2 separate regions of the Homo sapiens genome follow, and region 1 is linked to region 2. Evidence: fine-mapped expression QTL. Tissue or cell type: whole blood. Region 2 holds a variant in brackets; the other region holds the start of a gene. All regions are shown on one strand. Distances are from middle to middle.

The links. PIP is the estimated chance that this variant, and not a neighbour inherited with it, causes the effect.
Region 1: it holds the start of C11orf21, and the variant in region 2 is fine-mapped to the expression of C11orf21 in whole blood (INTERVAL, PIP 0.90).

The regions. Positions count from the first base shown.
Region 1 is chr11:2,298,316-2,306,315 of GRCh38, forward strand. C11orf21 (chromosome 11 open reading frame 21) reads right to left here and starts at 3,603. Exons shown (of 4, transcript NM_001329958.2): 1 at 3,441-3,603; 2 at 2,205-2,298; 3 at 1,113-1,392. The coding sequence starts at 3,493. The coding sequence ends at 1,141. TSPAN32 (tetraspanin 32) reads left to right here and starts at 3,698. Exons shown (of 10, transcript NM_139022.3): 1 at 3,698-3,900; 2 at 4,529-4,643; 3 at 5,792-5,889. The coding sequence starts at 3,835. RefSeq lists a silencer at 944-1,238 and an enhancer at 7,602-8,000.
Region 2 is chr11:2,189,982-2,198,321 of GRCh38, forward strand. No RefSeq gene overlaps it. Among named protein-coding and RNA genes, the nearest start is that of MIR4686, 21 kb to the left of the region's middle. The variant T/C (reference allele first, on the strand shown) is at 3,256.

The DNA.
Region 1 (8,000 bases), 110 kb after region 2:
ACTTCTAGGTTCCTGAGAGAGGCAACACTGCACCTTTAAAGGTGTCAGGAGCTCACTGCCCCAGCTGGTCATGAAACAGTCTCTTCATCAAGGGCTAAATAAAGCACGCTGACCACCAGGAATGGGGCAGGAAGCTTCTGCCCTGCAGCCTGCCTTGTCTGCACAGGGAGTGTGGGGACCATTAGGGGGAGGGTCCGATGTGCATTTTTCTGCCAGCGGGACCTTCCCCTGCCCCCAGTCCTGCCCAGGCCCGGGGGGTCACTCTGAAGGCATCTGGCTCTTACCCCAGGCATCTCCTGCCTCTGCCCCACTCCTCCACCCCCACGGGGTGCCGAGTCTCAGCCCAGGCTGGGGTGGCCCAGGCAGGACAGCAGGCTTGGTGGTGCCCGGCCCCACATACTAGTGGGTGGCACAGCGTGGATGTGGATAGAGACGCCTCCCCTACAGTCTGTCCCTGGTATCTGTGACGCAGGTGTGGGGTCCCTTTAGACTCCCCTGGGAGACAGCTGTGTCTATGAAGGGGCAGCCATCCCTGGGTCCCCTCTGCCCTCACTGAGGGCAGAGCCTAGGCTCCTTGGGGGGGGAAGCAGGGTGCCCCTCAGTGCCCACTGGAGTTGGCCAGCGGAGGCAGCAGCCCACGGCACTGAGAGGGAAGGCCCGGGCAGCCATGCCCCAGAAACTCCCTTGGTTGGGAGCAGAGCAGTGCCCAGAGCCCAGAACCCAGTTTGAGTATGGTCTTGGCTCTCAAGGGACAGGCCAGGGTGCCTCCAGGGGAAGGGGGCTGCCCAGGCAGTAGGGGTTCAAAGGTCCCCTGGGGCCCACCCAGCTGACCCAGGCCTAGGGTAATCCAGAAGGGGAGCTGCCCTCCTCCTCCCTGGGCTCAGGAGAGGCTGCAAAGGCAGCTCCTGGGACGTGGATTTCAGAATCAGGGCAAAGGACAGACATGAGCCAGATTCAGGTGCCCGCGTGGCCCCCACAGGTCTCTTCAAGCTCCAGGCCCCACTCGCTGTGACGCAGGTGGGAAGCTCTTGAGTGCCTCCCCGGTGGGAGGGGCCGCGCTCACAGACAGCACAGGGGCCCCCAGGCTCCAGCCTCAGAGCCCGGCTGCTCACCTCTGATGGACAGAAAAGGGTCCCTGTCTCAGGAAGGTAGAGGCTGCCACCTCCTGGCCCGAGGACACAGCTTTCCAGAGGAGGGGCCTGCTTCTAAGTCCAAGTCCCATCCCAGCCGGATAGCCAGGGGCAACTGCCCAGGTAAACTGAGACAGCAGCAGCAGGCAAGCCAGTGCAGAGCTGGGTGATCCACAGGTTCATGAGCGGTGGCAGGTGGAACAAGGGCACCATGGGCGGAGGGTTGGGCAGCTGCAGGTGGCATCATTGAGCCAGGGGCCTCCTGGTGGGTAAGGACATTGTAGAGTGAGCGGGCGCACCTGGGACCCAGGAATTCACAGGAAGGAGAGAGGAAAAAGGAAGTCCCTGGCGGGTAAACACATATGCATGCACACACATCCACGTCTGCACACGCATCCACGCCTGCACACGCATCCATGCCTGCACATGCATCCACGCCCAATCTCTTCCCTGGAAATAAAGCCAGGGGCCCTTAGGCCAGCTTGCAGTGGGGCCCAGCCCTTAGGACAGGCTCCTTGGTGGGGTAGGGGTGGGGGCAGCTGTCCTCCTGGGCCAGCTCCTTGGGGCTGAACCCGCTGCTCGAGGGGTCTTCCAGGCTCCCAGCGGCCGGCACCACCTCTAGAGCAGGTGGGCAGGGGTGTGTGGGGTGGGCAGGGGTTTGTGAGGGTGGGCAGGGGTGTGTGGGGTGGGCAGGGGTGTGTGGGGTGGGCAGGGGCATGTGGGGTGGGCAGGGGTGTGTGAGGTTGGGCAGGGGCGTGTGGGGTGGGCAGGGGTGTGTGAGGGTGGGCAGGGGTGTGTGGGGTGGGCAGGGGTGTGTAAGGTTGGGTAGGGGTGTGTGGGGTGGGCAGGGATGTGTGGGGTGGGCAGCGGTGTGCGGGGTGGGCAGGGGTGTGCGGGGTGGGCAGGAGGGTGTGGGGTGGGCAGCAGCCTGCACAGTGGCTTCCCCTCAACAAGCCACTTCCTCTTGCAGAGGGAATGTTGGGGTGGGAGGGTGTGGCTCAGCAAAGGGCGTGGGGGTTCCACCGGCTCCCTGCCCCCGCTGGTGGGGCACAGTGAGGGGGGCTGTGGTCAGACCTGGTCTCTGGAGGGCCAGCCGGGGGTTCCCGTCCACCTGTCAGGGGGTTCGACGCCACTTTGAGATGACAAGTGAGGCCACCTGGGCACAGCGCTGGTGTGAGAAGGAGGCCATCAGGACAGGTCAAGAACCCAGGCCCGCCCTGCTCCGAAATTCTTCAGACCTGATGAAGAGGTGTCCCAGAAGCGGGTGGTGCTCCAGGCCCGCCTCACCAGCTCCAGGGAGGTCAAGGTTGGAGAGAGACAATTCTAGGGGCGAACCAGACATAGCCAAGAGCAGCTCATCTTCCCTGGAGAGGACGGGCTGCCCACTTGCACAGCCCGGGGGCCTCCTGCCCCTAGACCTGGTACCTTCACTCTTGTTGCCACCCCTACATTCATACCTGCGCCCCAGTCTGAGCCACACCTAGGCCCCCAGCTGAAGTGACACTGTGGGTGCCAGGCATCTGAGGTCTCCACAAGCCCCCACAGACTCAGGGTGGGAATTCCTGGGGGCCAGAGCTGCAGAGGGTGCTGCCTGGGGGTGCTGGGCTGGACGGGGGTCCTGGTTGTCCCTCCTGGTTCTCCTGGTTCTCCCTCCGCAGAGGGAGGGAGGCGGTGGCCTCAGCAGTTCCTCCAGCAGCGTTCCTGAGCGGGCGGCAGCTGGGCCCTCTTCCCACAGCCACGCTGGGGTTGCCATGCCTGCAGGTCTTGGGGCCCCCTCCCCCTTGATGAGGTCCTGACCAAATGCAGGAGGAGCAATTCCAGCACCGAGGGGCGAGCAGAGCCGCCTGTTAGCACTCCTGGGAGGGCCCGGAGTGGTCCCTGAATGATGGATTCACCTGGAACATTTTCACCCTCTTCAGGCCCACCCTGCCCCAGAGGCCCACGGAAACCCTGCCTGTACTGGGGCCGCAGCGCTGCCCCCACCCATACGTAATTACACGGCTCGGTGTAATTGCAAATTCGAGGTTTACAAAGCCTCCCCCTGGAGGCCCCACGTGAGTGTGAGCGAGGCCCCAGCCCACCCCTGTGGCCCCAAGAAGGCTCTGCGACAAAATATCCATGAGTGCCGCCCACGAAGGCATTAAAACCAACGACCTTCTCAAAACTTAAGCTGTCACAGGACATTTCAAAGGGTGTTTCCTAAGAACACCTCAATAATGATGTTCCAAGGAGACCCCATCCAAATTCCTCCAAGGATTACGCCCCCAAGGCCCAGTCCACACTTGCTCACTCCCAGGACGGGGAGCTCACCTCCTCCTCCCCGGGCGCCGTCTCCTCCACATCCCACACCAGGTCCTGCCCATGACTTTCCCCCTCTCAGCGCCGTCCTCAGTGGCCACACCAAGAACGAGGCCATGTCTTCCTGGGAAGGGCCTCAGATGTCAGCAAATGCCCTGGTGTCTTGGGCTGGGCTGGGGGCACCAGGGTGAGGTGGTGGGGGGAGCCAACCTCACTGCCCCTCCCCTTCCTGCCTGCCCTTCTTCCGGGGCACCCAGCAGCTCGGTCCTAGGGCGATGTTGACAGACAGACAGAGGGGCGGATGCAGCCTACCTCCTGGGCAGTGAGCTGCGGTCTGAGGCCCCTGCCCAGCTGGAAACCACAGGGAGGGGAAGGGAGGGGAGGAGAGGAGAGGAGAGGAACCGTCATGGGGCCTTGGAGTCGAGTCAGGGTTGCCAAATGCCAGATGCTGGTCACCTGCTTCTTTATCTTGGTAACAGGCAGGTCGGGCAGGAGTGGGTGGTGGGTGGGGGTGAGCAGGGGTGAGGGGTGGCAGGGCCTCAGCACAGGGATTATCCCTCCCCTGACACACACACCAGCCCTACTGTCCCTGTCCTGCCCTTGCAGACATGTGTCCTGCCCTTGCAGACAGCCGCAGGCAGGCAGGGACCACCATGAGCAACCCCGTCTCTCCTCCTGAGGGGCAGCACAGAGCCTGGAGGAGGCCTGAGTGGGGCTGAGGCCTGGGGCGAGCTGGGGTGGAGGGGCACTGGCTGCCGGGCTCCAGGGATCTTCTCCCCTTCCTGCCCCGGAGGGTGCTGGCACAGGGGTGGGGCTCACTCCCACTCCGTAGACACAATGATCAGAGGTCCTGGGTGTCTGGGGAAGCTGGGCTGTGCGTGTATGCGTCTACCATGTGGGGGTGCCTGTGAGTGTGCTGGGGCGTCTGCAGTGAAGGCCTCCTGAGACCACTCCACGGAAACACCGGGAATCCCTGCAGCTGAGCCTGTCTCTCACGGGACCGGGAAGCTGGAGAGAGCCCCAACCCTGCCCGCTGGGGCCGAGCTCCCTGCTCCTGCAGCAGTCCCATGCCCCACACTCTGAGTCTGCCCTATCCACAGCTGCTGGGCCTCTCTGTGGCCACCATGGTGACTCTTACCTACTTCGGGGCCCACTTTGCTGTCATCCGCCGAGCGTCCCTGGAGAAGAACCCGTACCAGGCTGTGCACCAATGGGGTAAGTGAGGTCCAGGCCTGGCTGCATCGGGAGGGGCCTCGGGTGCAAGGGTGGCTGGCACGAGCCCAGCTGGACGCCTCACAGCCAGAATGGTGCCAGGCCCTAGGCAGGAGCCAGAGGTGGTCAGGGGCAGGGAGGGGCTGCCCTGGAGTCCTAGCTCCCCTGGGCAGGGCCTCGGGTCTGGGTGACAGCCAGTGTTCCTGCCTGGTTCTCGTGCCCCACAGGAGCGTGGGCACAGTGTGGGTATATGTCGGGCAGGGTCAGGAAGTGGCTCTGTGCGGTCAGGACCTGGCTCTGTGCAGTCAGGGCTCAGTCCCAGGCAGGCCTGGGACTGGCCTGGGGCTGGGCACAGCAGGTCCATGAGGGCTCCACATGGCTGATGTTCCACTCAGGACCTGGGATGTGGGTGGGGAGGGGGTGGGGGCTGCTCTAGCCAGACGCCTCCCTGCAGGGACTCAGCAGCGACTTATCCAACATCCAGAGAGCGGGAGCGAGGGCCAGAGCCTGCTGGGGCCACTCAGGGGTAAGGCTGAGGAAGGCCCCTTTAATGAGGGGATGTCAGAGCCAGATCTGCAGGGGACTCTCAGGCAGGAGCTCAGGGGGCCCAGGAAGGCTGCAGCCCGGTGGGCAGATGTAGGGAAACTGAGGCCCAGGAGGTCAGGGATACTGCCTTAGAACCCAATGCTTTTCCCCAAGTCCTAGGACCAGGGCCTCCCTGGAGGAGGACGCCTGGGGCCCAGGTCCAGGTCCGGACTGATAAGATTACAGCTCCAGTCCGGCCACTTGTCACTAGGACATGGCAGGAGGATGCCTGGGGCCCAGGTCCAGGTCCAGACTGATAAGATTACAGCTCCAGTCCGGCCACTTGTCACTAGGGCATGGCAGGGAGCATGTGGCTTCCAAGATAGCCCCACAGGCATGGAGGGCAGGGAGGAAAAGAGGGAAGGAGGGGCAGTCCCCCAGGCTGAACGAGTCCCACCTCCCTCCTCCTTCCCTCAGGGCCGTCTGATGGAGAGACAGGCCCATTCAGAGCCCCCCAGGAGTCCCTCACGGCCCCTGACTCCCAAGTTAGATTTCACACCCAGGCTGTGTGCACTCAGGACCTGTCCTGGGCACCCCTAACCCTCCTCCTCTCTCCTCCCAACCAGCCTTCTCTGCGGGGTTGAGCCTGGTGGGCCTCCTGACTCTGGGAGCCGTGCTGAGCGCTGCAGCCACCGTGAGGGAGGCCCAGGGCCTCATGGCAGGGGTGAGTTCATTGTGTTCCCAGATGCCCAGGCCCCCAGAAAAGAATTAGAAAGGAGTGAAGAGCTGGCAGGGCTGTGTGCCACCCCCACACCTGAGTGACCAGGCAGAACCAGAGGCCCCAGGGATGCTGGCCAGCCGAGACCCCCACGTCAACCCCACACCTGAGTATCTAGGCAGAAACAGAGGCCCCAGGGATGCTAGCCAGCCGAGACCCCCTACCTGGGTAGCCAAGGCCCCTCCACCAGGCCCTACCTCACCCTGTCATCTACACGCCCAACAAGGGTTCCTATAGGAGCTCTGAAAGAGAGAGACGGCCCTCCTGACCCTGGGAGCTGTTTCCAAAGTCCCTGGGAGGGTCTGGTTCTATTGCCCAGCAAGCTCTGGGAGGGCACTGGGAGCATCCCATTTCCTGTTCGGAGGAGGCCGGGCCAGGCTCAGGAAACGCCCCTTGAGCTCTCCAGCCTGGGCTCTCCGGAGCTGCACACTCTCCTTCCCAGCTGCCGGAGGTGTCTCCCCAGCCCCGAGGTCCCATAGGCCCCTCCACCCCACCCCATAGCAGTGGCCTCTTGTCACCCTCATTCCTACTCCTCCCCATGGGCTTCTGTCTTGGTCCCTGCCACTCGATGGTCATCGCAGACCCCACCTGGCGGCAGCCTCCCCACGCCTGTCCTGCCCCTGCTAGGCCCACAGCCCTCTTCTCTCACCCCAGCTGGGGCAGCTCCTCCCTGGCGCCCCGGGCTCCCACCTGTCCCTCTAGCCTCCCGTCTCCCCTTTCCAGCCATGAGGAGCTTGTGCTGGGGGCTTTGCTTCCCTGTTTAGCCTGTGAAGCTGGACCACTCTGGGGGTCCCTGAGGGCAGAGCCTCCTGGGTCCCCAGGGCTGGCAGGGTTTTCAGCTCAGCCTTCAAGTTCAGCAAATGCTTGTTTAATGACCCTGGTTTATAAATGTCTCCAAGAATAGGAATAGAGTCACCTCCTGGAGCTGCTGCCGGGCCAACCAGCCCTGGGTGGGCCCATGGTGGGCAGAGGAGGACCCAGCAGCTCCAGCACTAGCCAGGATTCCTGCTCCGGGGCACACGAGCATGGGCAGGGACAACCCCGGCCTGTGCTATCTGGCTTCAGGGCCAGGTGGGAGGCCCCAGTGGGGAGATGACAAGGCAGGTAGTCTGCCCCCCCCCCCAGAGGGTGTGTGGCCTGCAAAGGGACACCTGGATGGAAGAAAAGGTTGGCAACAGGGCCAGGCCAAGGGGTCCAGGTCAGAGCTGGAGGCCCAGAAAGAACCAGCGCTGGGGCTGCAGTACCGTCCACCAGGGGGTGCCATGGTGCTGGGCTTGAGGCCACATATGCAGAAGCCAGCCGCTGGGCCACGGGGCTCCTGTCCCAGTCACCAGCCTTTCCCACCCCACCTTGCCCCCGTGCACAAACCAGTCTAGCACCCTCATCTGTGGCCAAGGCGGTCAGGGAGCACCTGGGCTCAGGTTCTGTGTCCCCAGCCAGCCCCAAGGCCAGGGTGACTTGACATGTGGGTCAGGCCTGTAGAGCAGCCTTGGAGGCCCCCAACTGGATGCCTGCACTGGGCTGGGGTCCTGAGGACACTCCAGTCCCAGCTGGGTGGGCTCCAGCACAGCTCCCAAGCCCCAATGCACTTAGACCCAGCCTGGATGGTGAGCTCAGCATGGCCACAGCAGGGAGCTGGGAGACCCCAGTCAAGAGACCTGCTCCATTGAGCTGCATGCATGTGTGTGCATGAGGGTGAGCCTATGTGTATGCGTGTGCAAATATACATGTGTGTGTGCATGTGCATGAGTGTGTGTGTGCATGTGTGTGTGCGTGTGCAGGTGCCTCTGTGTGTGTGTGTGTGTGTGTGTGTAAGTATCTGTCACCGGTCTTCACCTGCCCCTGTTGCCATACGGGTGTGGTGTCTGCGTGTTGCATCTGGCACATCTGTATGTGTGTCTGCACGCATGAGCACAAGTGAAGGGGCTAGGGAAGGGGAGCAGGGAGTGGAAAGATTTTTTCCAATGGGCTGGGCGCCTGGATGCTCCCCACAAAGCCCCTTCCTGCCTGCCCCCACCCCTCCGGCCTCTCCCCTAGCTGGCCTCTCGCACAGGAAA
Region 2 (8,340 bases):
GGCCTGGAGTTTCCACCGCAGTCAGCGTGCACAGAGGCCTGGGCTGGAGGCAGAGACCGGCCGGGTCAGTGGCAAGGCTGTCTCTCAGCAACCCTGGGGCAGAGCAAGCAGCTCCTCCCGGGAGGCCAGGGGGGCACTGGACACAGGCCCACTCAGGGGCCGGGCAGCTGGTGGGCACACCCCCCGGGTGCTGGGAGTGCACAGCCACTGAGGCAGCACCTCAGGGAGCCCTGGGGCGTGTCCCCTCTGGGTCTACACAGCACTAAGGCCGCCCCTGGGGCATAAGGTCGGCAGCCTGCCTGCCACGGCACTGCGCTGCCTGTGCCCTCCTCATGGGCAGAGTGGGCATCCAGAGCCTGGCAGGACCCCCTCTGGCTTGTTGTCCACAAGTCCCCAGTTACACAGCCCAGGCCGGCTTCCGAGGGGCACGGTGACAGAGCCTCTCCCCGCCCTCTGCAGGAAGCCGGGAAAGAAGGGTGGACCCTTCCCGTTCCAGGCTGCTCCCGCCCCACAGGGATGGCCGTGTTGGCGGTGAAGCCTGAGGCTCAGGGTCCAGGCAGAAAGCGCTGGTTCCTCCAGACTGCCAAGCGCGGTTGCTATTTATTTCTTCTCCATTAAAAGCCTCGGGACCGTTTATTGATTTCTTGCTAAGATGTGTTATCGTCCATGATACAGCAAAGTGAACAAAACTGGAGAAAACAGGGGCAGAGGCGAAGGCGAACGCACACGTGGCCGCCCTGCTAATGGGGCTCTGAGCATCTTGTTTCGCTGTCACCGCAGGTGGCCTTGCTGCCATCATCCCGCTGCGTGTCAGAAACCTTTTCCATGGCGTCTGTATCAATCCGCTTTTAACAAGGAGGAAGGAAGGGCCCGAGCCCGTGCCAGCTGCCTGGGGGTGAGGGCTGCCTGCCCCTGGGCCTTCGGCTGAGTAGGTTTGGAAAGCACTCCCTTTGTCTAATTACGCCTGATCCGGTATCCAGGGAAACAGCTGCATCTTAATCCTCAGGGCAGGACGTTAGTTTGTCTTTTATCTGTCCACAATCGGCACCGGGGCCACGTGGAGCCAAATTGTGTTGACTTCTTGCACGCACGCGGAGGCTAATTGCAGGGACACGGAAAGCCAGAGACCCCTGAGAGTGGAGCAGCCTCCCAGTGTGCAGGGGGCAGAGCCGGGGGCTGCCCATGCTGAGCAAGCCCAGGGCACCTGCCTGGCGGGAAGGTCGGGGTGGAGGAAGCGGATGCAGGTGGCTGAGATTGCAGAGGGAGAAAGCAAAGGAGGAAGGAGAGAGAGGGAAGGAGGAGGATGAGGGAGGGGAAGGAGGAGGCCCTGAGGCTGTCTCAGGGAGGGGCCTGGGGCCTAGGACTCTGAGGAAGAGGAACAGAACTGTTCCCCAGTCCCCTTTGTCTGTTGACTTTGTCACCAGGCACATGCTAACCTTTCGGTGGACGAGGGTGTTGGTGGCTTCAATTTGTTATTGAGGAAGCACAGATTTTTGTTTTCGTTTTGAGACAGGTCTCTCTCTGTCACCCAGGCTGGAGTGCAGTGGCAGGATCATGGCTCACTGCAATCTCCATGGCCTCAATCAATCCTCCGACCTCAGCCTCCTGAGTAGCTGGGACTACAGGTACACGCCACCATGCCCTGCGAATTTGAAAACAATTTTTTGTAGAGACGGGGTCTCACTGTGTTGCCCAGGCTAGTCTCAAACTCCTGGGCTTAAGCGATGCCCCTGCCTTGACCACCCAAAGCATTGGGATTACAGGCTTGAGCCACCACACCTGGCCTGAAACCACAGTTTTTTAACTGAAAAAATAGGTATATATATATTTACGATTAAAAGAGTAACCCCACGCTCACTAGAAAAATGCAAAAGATACAGAAATGCATAAAGAAACCAAATGGCCTCAGAACTCCTAAAGCAAACACACGGACTAGGTAAAGTCCCCTGGGGAACAATCTGTGACCCCTCCTCCCCGAGCCTGGATAAATCAGGTGCCCTGTGTGGACACCCCATGGGACACGAGATTCAAAGTGGTGGCTATGTCTGGGGAAGGAGGGAAGGAGGGAGGGAAGCACAGTGAGCCAGGGGCGTGGGCAGGGCTGGTTTCTTGTTCTTTAAATCAAGGTGCACATGAGGCTAAGTCCAGGTTTGACAGAGCTGGGCGGTGGCCACTCCATGGTGCTGGTGATGACTATCTTTGTGAACCGAGACGGCCAATCATTAACATCCCCTAGACCCCTGGGGTACACCCTGGAGGGGCCCCTGCTAGGTGTGGTGTGACTTCTCAGGGGGGAAGCAGAAATGCACCCTCCTGGGTCACCCCCTCCAGGCTGAGACCCGAGGGGGTCTCAGTTCACTGTGACCTCGGCAGCGAGAGGTCCCCAGCCATAGGCCCTGTGGTCCAGCCAGGGCTCCCGACCTCCCAGCTCCCCGCCCCCCCATATTCCACACCCAAAGGAGGTGATTTTTCTCTCAGAAAGCGGGGGCTTGTTGGCTTAACCTGGGACACTCCTGGCCCGGCAGTCAATAGAGCAGCTGTCTCCAGGCTGGCCGAGGGCATGCCCGTGGGCAGGGGTCCATGTCGTGAGCTACCAGGGTGCCCCCCATGGTTGGGTGCTCTCCCCACAGCACAAAAACTCGGCTCCAAGGAGGATCAGCCATTCCCGGAGGGAGTGGAGGCTCAGGGACCCCCCACCAAGGGCCTGGTCTGGGGCAGCTGGGACTGAGCAGTCTTCTTCAGGGGAGCAGCCTTGGGAACCCCAGAAGGCAGAGCCCGGTGTCTTGAGCTGACTCTGCAGGGGGGTGCACAGCGGCCGACCACTGCATGTGGGCCCCCCTCCCTCCCTTTCTCCCCTGTTTCCAGGGGTAAGGCTGGCTACAGCCCTGCCCACTGAGGGGCCAGTGTTGTCCTGGGCATCAGGCACTGGTGCAGGGTCTGACAGTGTCTAGGTAAACAGGAGAGAGGCTGCCTGGGGGCAGCTCAGAGGCCAGAACAGGGTTGGCCCTGGGGAGGTTGCTGTGTAAAAACGAGGCCCAGCTTGGTGGCGCATGCCTGTAATCCCGGCCACTCAGGAGGCTGAGGCAGGAGAATAGCTTGAACCAGGGAGTCAGAGTTTGCAGTGAGCCGAGATTGTGCCACCGCACTCCAGCCTGGGCCACAGAGTGAGACTCCGTCTCCTCAAAAAAAAGAGGAGGCCCAGGCTCGAGGCCTCATTTGGCCACTCTCCGGTGGGCCTCAGTGTCCCCACCTGGG[T/C]GGCATGTGTCCTTATACCAACCCCGTGGGCTACGGTGGGAATCAGCGGAGTGACAGGGTGCAATGATGGCTCAGGCAGATACAGTGGCGTCACAGGGCCTGGTGGGTGCACCAGCCCCAGACGGTCCTGCTGGCTGTGGCACAAGATGTTCTCTCCCAGGATGTGCATCCTGACCTTGCCTGCGGGCACCGCTGAGCTGCTCTGCTCTGCGACACAGTGGCCCTGGTCTGTGTCACTGTGACAGGTGACACCATTGCTCCGCTCCACTGGGAGGTAGGCAGAGGCTCCAGGCAGGGGCAGGGTGTGCCGTGTGCTGTCCTCAGCAGCGGGGAGACCGAGGAAGGCACAGCTCTGTCAGGATGCGGGCTGGGGGTCAATTAAGGAGAGACCGTCCATGAGGGCAGCAGGGGCCCAAGTGGACACAGGGAGGGGAAAAGCAGGGGCAGGAATGGAGGCACCATCGGGCCGGCCTGGAGCAGGGAGTACAGGGTGGAGCACGGGGCGGGAGCTCGGCACAGTGCCCAGCAGGGGCCCAGCCCCACCCTTGTTCTTGGAAGGGCCTCAGCTACAGGCCTGCAGGGAAGCTCCTGTTTACTGTCCGGTCCACCCTCGCTGGGGGCTGCTATGAACCCCATGGAGGGCAGGCCCCTGGGAATCCACCCACAGGGACACCCCACCTGAAACCCCATACTCGAGGCCTAGCCCTCTGTACCCTCGGCCCCACGTTCTTCTCCCTCAAGACCCCAGACTCCAAACCCGGGGGGTGGGGAGCTGGGGCCTGTGCCCGGGGACTTATCAGAGTAGTGCTGGTGTTGAAACAGCTGCGATTTGTGCGCACACATGGGAGAGTCAGAGCGTGTGAGCCCGGCCCTGTGTGCACACACATGTGAGAGTCAGAGTGTGTGAGCCCGGCCCTGTGTGCACACATGTGAGAGTCAGAGTGTGTGAACCTGGCCCTGTGTGCACACATGTGAGAGTCAGAGTGTGTGAGCCCGGCCCTGTGTGCACACATGTGAGAGTCAGAGTGTGTGAGCCCGGCCCTGTGTGCACACATGTGAGAGTCAGAGTGTGTGAGCCCGGCCCTGTGTGCACACATGTGAGAGTCAGAGTGTGTGAACCTGGCCCTGTGTGCACCCGTGTGTGCATGCCGAGGGTCAATGGAAGACCAGGCCACCTGTGAAGGCCAGCTTAGCCTGCTGAGAGCGGTGATGGTGGCTGCAAGCGGGGACAGGGAGGGAGGGGACAGCAGATGGGGAGGCGTTGGGTCCTGGTCCTGCCGCCCAGCTGGATCTGGGACCTGCCTGCAGGGACAGGGACAAACCTGAGCAGGCTGTGCGCCCTTCCTGGGCACAAGGGTCTCCATGGTGTGCACGGGTGCTTCTGCAGGGCATGGACGTGAGTTTGCTGCAGATGGGCTGAGTGTGTGTGCGTTTGTATGTGACTGCGTGCATCTGTGGGCTGAGAAGTTGCAAGTATGTTTCTCCCTGGATCATGTTGATCTGGGATATGGATGGGGTGGGGTCCTGGGTCCTGCAGCTTCCCTGGCCCCTGCACCCTGAGCTCACCCCAGGGACCCTCCAGCATGCTTGCTCCCAGGGGCTCCGGCGCCTGCCCCACTCCCACTTGTCCACACCCTCTAGCTCCGTGGATGGGGATGGCTGCAGCCACACTCAAGCCCATGCCCCAGCTAAGCTCCGCTGGCCACCGCTCCTCTTCTCTGCAGCTGTCATCCTCTCTCTTGCTGCCTGGGGTGCACACTTCTTGGTGGGTGGCAGGTGGCAGGCATGCTGGGCCATCTCTGTCCTTGCAGACTGAGGCCCAGCCCCTTCCCTGGTGTTCCCTGAGGCTGGCACCCCCTTGCGGCCATCTGCGGCATAACCTCGCTCCCGGCCGCCTGTGCCGGAAAGAGGCTGGGGGTCCACAAAGCCCCCTCCCTGCCCGGGGAGGGGCCTGGCAGGCAAACCTGACAGGGCAGTCTGTGGGGACATTTGTGGGCACCTCAGGGGCCCCCGGGCCAGCTGGCATCGGGTGCACTGAAGGTGGGTGCCCATGGGCCCCAATTTCCCAGATGCCTCTGGGCTCCCCAAGTCCCTGACATGGTCAGTCAGGGGTAGAATTTTCTAGGGACACTTCCACACAGCTCCCAGACACCCAGGTAGGAGCAGGGGGCTTCTCGAAAGGTCTCTGGAGGCCTGAGAGGACCTCTGCCCCTCACTGACTCCCACCAAGGGCTCTTTCCTCCCTTCTGAATTGGCCAGCCCACCCTTAGCAAACCGGCCATGCAGTGAGCACTCATGCAGTCAGGCCCTGGCTTGTTCTGGGGGGCCACGCGGCTCCAAGTTCAGACCCCAGCCCTGAGCAAGGCTGCTCCCCGCTTCCCGCCCCCGGGGAGGGTTGCGCTGAGGTATTCGCAATGGGGCACCCCCCAGCTTTGCAGGGCACTGGTGGCCTCGCAAATTTGTGCAGCACCACGACGCCCTGGGGCTGTATTTCCATCACCCCCATTCCACAGGTGGGAAAACGGAAGCCTGTGGACAGTGAGTGGCAGCGGGGCCCAGGCCTTCAGACTAGGGGAGCCAGGCTGCTTCCACCTCCTTGAGGAAGAGGCATCTTGGGAGGAGGGCGTCCTGGCCTGCCAAGATGGGGGGCCGGTGCCCACCCCTGCCTGTGAGTCAGGGCATCAGATCTCGTGGGCACCACTCACAGGGGCAGATGTGGCAGGGGTCAGCTTGGGCCTGGGCTGGATCTGGGGTCTTGGCATCAGGGGGCTGAATCTGGCCTGGTAGAGGGTGGGCCGTCCCTGGGCTGTGCTGTGGCCCAGCTGGCTCTGGGCTCCAGCCACCGCCATGCTCACTATTATCCTCGAGAAACCGGTGGGCCCAGGAACACTGGGGGGAGGTGAAGACCTGGGTTCTGGACCACACAGGTCATGGGGGTCTCCATCTGTAGCAGGGAGAGGGGTAGAGGGTTTGAGGTGAACAGAAGGATGGGTGTGTGGCCTCATCAGTCTCTGTTTCTCTGTTTGCCTCTGTCTCTACCTGCCTCTCTCCCCATCTCTGTCTATCTCTATCTGTGTCTCTGTCTGTCTGTCTCCATCTCTATCTGTCTCTTCCCCATCTGTCTCTATCTTTGCGTCTCTATTTCTCTGCTTCTGTCTCTGTCTCTGTTTCTCTTCCCATCTCTGTCTCTCTCTAATTCTGTCTTTGTATCTCCATCTCTTTCTCCATTTCTGCATCTCTGTCTCCCCATCTGTGTCTCCCTGTCTCTGCGTCTCTGTTCCCCCGTCTCTCTGTTTCTGTCTGTCTATCTCCCCGTGTCTGTGTCCCTGTCTCTGCATCTCCGTCTGCTTGTCTCTGTCTTCATCTCTGTGCCTCTGTCTCCCCGTCTCCTTCCCTCTGTCTCCCTGTCTCTCTGTCTTTGTCTCCCTGTGTCTCTGTCTCCCCGTCTCTGTCTCCATCTCTGCATCTCTGTCTCCCCGCCTCCATCTCTCTTCTGTCTCCCTGCGTCTCTGTCTCCTCATCTCTGTCTTCGTCTCCGCGTCTCTGTCTCCCCGTCTCCATCCCTCTGTCTCTCTGTGTCTCTGTCTCCCTGTCTCTCTGTTTCTGTCTCTCTGTCTCCATCTCTGTGTCTCTGTCTCCCCGCCTCCATCTCTCTTCTGTCTCTCTGCATCTCTGTCTCCCCATCTCTGTGTCCTTGTCTCTGTGTCTCTGTCTCCTCATCTCTGTCTTCATCTCTATGTCTCTGTCTCCCCTTCTCCATCTCTCTGTCTCTCTGTGTCTCTGTCTCCCTGTCTTTGTCTCTCTGTGTCTCTGTCTCCCTGTCTCTGTCTCCATCTCTGCATCTCTGTCTCCCCACCTCCATCTCTCTTCTGTCTCTCTGCATCTCTGTCTCCCCATCTCTGTGTCCCTGTCTCTGCGCCTCTGTCTCCTCATCTCTGTCTCTCTGTGTCTCTGTCTCCCTGTCTCTCTGTCTCTGTCTCTCTGCGTCTCTGTCTCCCCGCCTCCATCTCTCTGCATCTCTGTCTCCCTGTCTCTGTGTCCCCGTCCCCGTGTCTCTGTCTCCCATCTCACATGTACAGTCGGAGAGGAGGAGGAGCCCTGGGTGCTGAAGGCAGAAGTCAGGCCGAGGAGCCGCCCTGCAGGGTGTCCAGGTGGCCACACGGTGGGGCCCTCGTCCCATGTCCAGGTGGCCGGGCTGCAGGAGGAGGGTGCTGGTTCCTCAAGGAGGAGAGGGGCTGGGAAGGGGTCAGGAAAGGGGAGCTGGGGTGGGACTCAGGGGGTCTCCATCAGATTGCTCTCAGGGAACCAGGCTGGTCCCCAGGACCCCGAGGGAGGGACAGGACCGCAGGAGGTGCGGCTCAACCGTGACTGCCACAGGAGTGGGGCAGGGGAAGGGTGGCGGGGCCAGGCGTGGGCCGCCCGAGGTGCTGACACTGCCAGGCAGGGCAGGGGTTGCTCACGTCCCAGGAGGCCCCCATAAGACTCCCACAGTCGAGTGCAGAGGTCTCCGAAGCAACTCAGTCCCGCCTACAATCTAGCCATGGGGCTTGGGCTTAACGGGGGTCAATGGGCGCCAGGCCTGAGGACGTGGGGCCCCCAGACACACTTTCTCTACAGGCACGTCGCATGCCACACACCACACATGCACACACACACTTGCGGGCCCTGCAAACACGCGTGCGCAGATGCCAGCACACACGGCCCTACGCGCAGCACACACAGTCACACACACGCCCTCGGCGGCCTCCTGCACAGCTGTGCACTCTTACACCACAGGAGAAAGGAAAGAATCACACCCCAGCCCAGAAAGAGACCACCGTGTGGCACCACAGCCCAGCCTGCAGGGTAGCAGGGGAGAGGCCAGCAAGTGACAAACGGGGGCCGGTCCGCAACCCCAGCTCCCTAACCAGGCACCAACTGCCGGGGCATCTTGGCCCCTGGGCTTCAGCTCCCCTGGGAGGATCCACATGGCCAGGCCGCACACATGCCCCACCCCTCCCCACCCAGCTCAACGTCCTCCATCACCCACACCCCACGTGCCCTGTGCCATCCCACTCAGGACCTCGCTGCTTCCTTTCTCCCAGG